2 separate regions of the Homo sapiens genome follow, and region 2 is linked to region 1. The links come from fine-mapping of genetic effects on gene expression. Tissue or cell type: whole blood. Region 1 holds a variant in brackets; the other region holds the start of a gene. All regions are shown on one strand. Distances are from middle to middle.

The links. PIP is the estimated chance that this variant, and not a neighbour inherited with it, causes the effect.
Region 2: it holds the start of CLHC1, and the variant in region 1 is the best candidate, but not a certain one, in a credible set for the expression of CLHC1 in whole blood (TOPMed, PIP 0.74).

The regions. Positions count from the first base shown.
Region 1 is chr2:55,149,895-55,152,653 of GRCh38, reverse strand. No RefSeq gene overlaps it. Among named protein-coding and RNA genes, the nearest start is that of CLHC1, 81 kb to the left of the region's middle. RefSeq lists an enhancer at 1,669-1,718. The variant T/C (reference allele first, on the strand shown) is at 1,665.
Region 2 is chr2:55,231,069-55,233,827 of GRCh38, reverse strand. CLHC1 (clathrin heavy chain linker domain containing 1) reads left to right here and starts at 1,535. Exons shown (of 13, transcript NM_152385.4): 1 at 1,535-1,605. RPS27A (ribosomal protein S27a) reads right to left here and starts at 1,140. Exons shown (of 6, transcript NM_002954.6): 1 at 1,120-1,140; 2 at 956-1,020; 3 at 411-465. The coding sequence starts at 1,003. RefSeq lists enhancers at 861-1,040, 1,061-1,490.

The DNA.
Region 1 (2,759 bases):
TCTTTCACAACAGACTGTGAGCTTCAAGAAATCGGGACTGTGTCTTCTCACTGTAGCCCCAGTGCCGTCAAAGCGCCTAACATATCCTGAGCACTCAGAATAGTTGTTAGATTAAGTTTGAAAGGGCACTTCATTGACTGTCTCATCTGAGCAGCCCTGCGAGCATATTTAACAGACAGATATATCCTTTGGACTAGGTGTTTGAGCTTGAAGAAAGGTTTTTAGGGTGGCAAAATTAGTGCTGTCTCCTGCAAGGCTGATTGAAAAGTCTGCACCACTTTTCTGGTTTTCACCTCTGATTGCAGTCCCATCAGCAAGTGTCTACACTGTGCTCATACCCTTCTAGGTGTTGTGATGGCTGGAAACTCATTGTGAGATGTTGCTCTTGCCAAGAACAAGTGTATACTCCAGAGCAGGAGGCAGCTGCACTCTCATAGGCAAAGTATGATAAATACTCTTAAGTCTTGTGGGATCCAGAGAGGATAGACAATGTAGACCAGAACTAAGACTAGGACCTCCACAGTGGATTCTTAGATATTTGGGTGACACAGACTCTTACCCCTGCCTGTCTTTGGAGGACAGAGTCATTTGTACAGAAATCCCAGGTCATTTTCTTACTTGTTTATACTGAAACTTCTCTACTCTGGTCCTCTCTGTTGAGCTAGCTGCAGGCTTGGCAAAATAGATATTTGGCATCTTCCCATGTTGACTTCTTTTTCTTTTCCTGTCTCATTTTTCCACATTATTGTTTCCCTCTTTCAGCCCCAATATGTCCATTTTCTTCACATGCCCTTCTCCACCTGCCCAGGCCTCAGGCCTCCAGCCTCCCTTCCCCCTACATGCCTGTTGCACATCTGAATATGCACTGCCCAGGCAGGGACCTGCCCAACTTTCCTTCTACTCACTTTTTCCTAAAAACTAACTACCCGTATGGGCCTTCTCTTCTGGGCTTTGCTTTGCATTTTCTAAGATGAGACGAAATTTTGATAATGCATTTATTTGCTTGTCGAACATTTCCCTTTTTTCACATGGTGAAAGTGCCATGATAGGCACCACAGAGAAGGAATGTAATGAGGATCCACCTCTCCAGGAGCTCTAGGCCATCAGGAAAGGCCATCAGCGCTTATCTTTTTCTGAGAGTCTCCTAAGATTTACTTTGAAACTTAAGTTGAGTCCTAGGATTGTAAAAATTTCATGTATATTCATAATTATACACCAAGAGGGGAGAGAGTGGATGATCCTGATACCCTACATGGAGAAGGAACTTACTGTGGGGTGGAAGAAATTTACATCTCTGTTTATCCTGACCTTGAACAACCAGCTCACGGTTGGTGGGAGTAAGACATTGGAAGGTATTGTTCAATACTGTCTTGTCTAGTTCTGAGAATGCCTCAGTCATCTGCAGACAGAGCTATAAATACCAGATTTCTTTTTTTCCCATCTTTTCACAGGTGTTGAAAATATCAGACTTCTTTGGCAGATGGGAGGAGTCTTATAGGACTCAGGAATTGTCATCACTGGTGAAAAGAGATGCTTCCCCTTCTGCAATGAAAGACAGAAGTGAAAGCTGAGCTGTGAGACGTGGTGAGCGACAGGCCAGTGGGAGACAAGGCCTTGGTCTCTGCTGCCAGCAGCAGTGGGCTCTGTTGGTCTCCTCTTTTCAC[T/C]AGGGGAAGTAGTGAGGGACCATAATTCTCTCTCTCTCTCTCTCTCTCTTTCTTTTTTTTTTTTTTTTTTTGAGATGGAGTCTTGCTCTGTTGCCCAGGCTGGAGTGCAGTGGCACAGTCTCGGCTCACTGCAACCCCCACCTCAAGTGATTCTCCTGCCTCAGCCTCCTAAGTAGCTGGGATTACAGGTGCCTGCCACCACATCTGGCTAATTTTTGGTATTTTTAGTAGAGATGGGGTTTCTCCATGTTGGCCAGGCTGGTCTCAAACTCCTGACCTCAGGTGATCCACCCGCCTCAGCCTCCCAAAGTGCTGGGGTTACAGGCATGGGCCACTGTGCCCCGCCTTTTTTTTTTCTTTTCTTTTATTAGTCACAGCTCACTGCAGCCTCAACCTCCTGGGCTCAAGCGGTCCTCCCACATCAACCTCCTGAGCAGCTGGGACTACAGGCATGTGCCATAATGCCTGGCTAATTTTTTGTAGAGATGGGGTTTCACCATGTTACCAGGCTGGTCTCAAACTCCTGGACTCAAGTGATCTTCCCACCTTGATCTCCCAAAGTGCTGGGATTACAGGCATGAGCCACTGCACCTGGCTTCATAATTCTCTTGAGCAGTGTAGTCATGGGGCATGTTTGGGAATAGTGGGGACCCAGTGTGGAGCTTGAACTTCTAATAACCCAGTGGTGACTGGGTGGAGAATCAGGAATCAAAGACCCGGTCGTATTGCCATTAATTGTTTCCCTGGGTTTGATGGGCACAGAAAACAAAGATTACATAAAGAAGAAAAAAACTATGGTTCTTGCTTTCGGAATCACAGTGTGATGGGGCAGTTAGGATAATTGACACACACATAACGGGAGTGAACAGAGGTGGGGCGATGGGAAAGGAGAGAAATGTTGTATGAGCAGAGTATGGCATTGGCCAACCTCAGTGATCTGAATGGGAAGAGTAATGTTGTGGCCTCCTTGGAAATCCTTTAAAGGGATGGATGGTGTTTGTTCCTCTTTGTGACATCCATGCTCTCAATATTGCTGATGACGCGATAAGGACTGAACACAAGATCTCTCAGATGGCAAGCTCCAGAGGGTACTTA
Region 2 (2,759 bases), 81 kb before region 1:
TAAAACCCAGTCTCTACTAAAAATACAATAAATTAGCCAGGCATGGTGGTGCACGCCTGTAATCCCCACTAATAGGGAGGCTGAAGCACAAAAATCACTTGAACCCGGGAGGCGGAGGCTGCAGTAAGCCGGGACAAGCGAATGCACTCCAGCCTGGGCGACAGAGGAGACTCCATCTCACACAAAATAAATAAATAAGTGTCCAAATTCACGCAAGTGAAATACACCTCAAGGATTCCAATCTAGGTACTGTGCTCCCCGATCACCAATGTCTATTGTGTTATTCCACAAGTATTTCGCTTTGTCAATCTGACCCCTTCCCCCATCACCAAGAGCAGGTATGTCTAGCACCTACAGGTAGGCCGAAGTCTCCGCAGGTTAAGTTTTCTTAACTACAAAATACTACTTGCCTTCCTTATCCTGGATCTTGGCCTTTACATTTTCTATCGTATCCGAGGGTTCAACCTATGAGTGTTAAAGTGAAAGCATGTTGGTTACACATTAAGGAACTACAGCAGAACTCATTTAGTTTGACAATTACCACTGAACCGAACCAGCGACAGGGCTGAGACCTACTCGAGAGACCTATTACCCACCCAGTGGGCAACCTCCCAAGTCGGCTACCGGAAAGCACCTTCATCTCCCCAGCCCAGAGCGGGCGGCGGCCGCAGGGCCACACGTGCTCGCACCCGGCGGGCAGAGCGTCTCCTTCCCCACCGCAGCTCCTCCGTTTTAACTAACTAGCTGGAACCCCTCGAGAGGAGACAGGTCCAGCCTTTGGCCACCGAAAATCACCTCTAGGTCGTTGCTCAGCAAAAGGTACTCATTTCAAAGCTTAAGTTTTAGAACCCAAATTCGGAATCATGGTCTAAGACATGGAAAGCAGCGCCGGTCCTAAAATCCACCTCAGGACCTTATTCGGACCTTGGCTTCCTCATGACCACCCGGCCCGTACCTCGAGGGTGATGGTCTTCCCCGTAAGGGTTTTCACGAAAATCTGCATTTTGGTGGCGGCTCCACCTGAGGTTGAGGAAAAGGAAGAGACAGGTTAGGTCAGGGATCACAAGAGAAGGCACCATAGGGTGCTAACCCGAGAGCAGCCGAAGTGCAGACACCCACCGCAGATGGCGGATCGAAAAGGAAGAACGCCGCGCAGGCCCACGGGGTTTCCCGGAGCTCCCGCCGAAGGACCCACCCCTTAGGCGACCACACCAAATGCCTGACTGCCGTCCCAGCGACAATCCAACCCGGTGCCAGACTAGGACGTGAACTTCGTTTCTCCTCTCCCTAGCCTGGGCTTATTTCTCACTTTAGCCTTCGGAATGCTTTCGAAACTGTAGGTTTAAGCAACGTAAAAGATGTTTTAAAAAGGCTTTTCCCGTACAATCAACGTGGCTAAGAGAATTTTTAAAAGGAGGTCGAGGGGGGCCTCTTGGGGAAGAGGTAGGAAATGGAAGTGCATTCTGGGAACTGTAGTTCTCCACTGCTTTCTTCTACCTTGGACTACTTGTCCCAAGATGCAGTTCCACCTCCCAGATTCCCTAGTTACTATCTCTAAGCACTGAAGTCGGTGTTTGGAGAAAAGGACTCAGGTGAGGACTGGAGGTAGGATGAAGCGGAATAATGGTTTCCGGAGCGTGGGAACGGGCCGGAAGTGACTAGAGCAAATGTTAAGCGGGGGGCAAAGGGTGCGGGGCACGAAAGGTGTCCTTCACTCACTTCCAGAAGCGGTGATGGGCAGAGAATCAGCAATCTACCAGACGCTCCTTGGGCCTTCAAGGGAAGGGAATTTGCGTGGCCTGCTCCAGGCAAACTGAAAAATAGGTGAAATCTGCGGAAGCGGGGGTTCAGCCCTTTCTCTCCTGTAGCGCCTCCCTGCTTTCAACCGCCGAGTCTCTCCCAGCCTAGGGAAGAGTCTGGGTCTTGTGTGTCACTCCTTAGTGTGACACGCTTTAATATGTTGAAAAATCTCAGGAGTTTTCAAATTTTAAAGTGAAGCCGTACGGAAAAGAAACCTGCAGAATGGTTATTTAGTTGTAGAATTTCCAAATTTGGGCATTGGGAGTCTTGGATCTGAGAGGAAGTTTTTGGAGTATGTATGGGGTGCTTCTTCCGGCAAGGAGGCCAATTAGAAGCAAGTTCTCCCTGTCCTTTCTCCACTCCACAAACCAGAGTCCTTTCTAATGTCTTCTGTATTTATTTCTTCATCCTCTGCCCTCTGCGACCCCATCCCCAAATTCAGACCTTAATTTTCTCTTGTAGGGGTTCCGAATCTAACTCCTTATCTCTCTCCAGTCTTTCCTCCTTTCTAACCCACCTTCACTATTGCCTCCAAAATATTCATTCTGAAAGGTAAATGTGTGTTATTATTTTATACCTCACCTTCAGGATACAATTCAAATTTCTTAGAATGACATTCAGCCTCTGCCTTCCTTACAACCTAATCTGCTAAACCCATTACTCTACATTTTAGTAAATGAAGCTAATTTAATTTCCTGACCTATGCCCTCCCGTGTTTTGGCATTTCTGAAGAATCCAGTCGTTTATTCTTCCTGGAACTTTTTTTTTTTTTTTTCGTGAGACGGAATTTCGCTCTGTTGCCCAGGCTGGAGTGCAGTGGCGCGGTCTCGGCTCACTGTAAACTCCGCCTCCCAGGTTCAAGCAATTCTTCTGCCTCAGCCTCCCGAGTAGCTGGGATTACAGGCGCCCACCACCACACCCGGCTAATTTTTGTATTTTTAGTAGAGATGGGGTTTCAC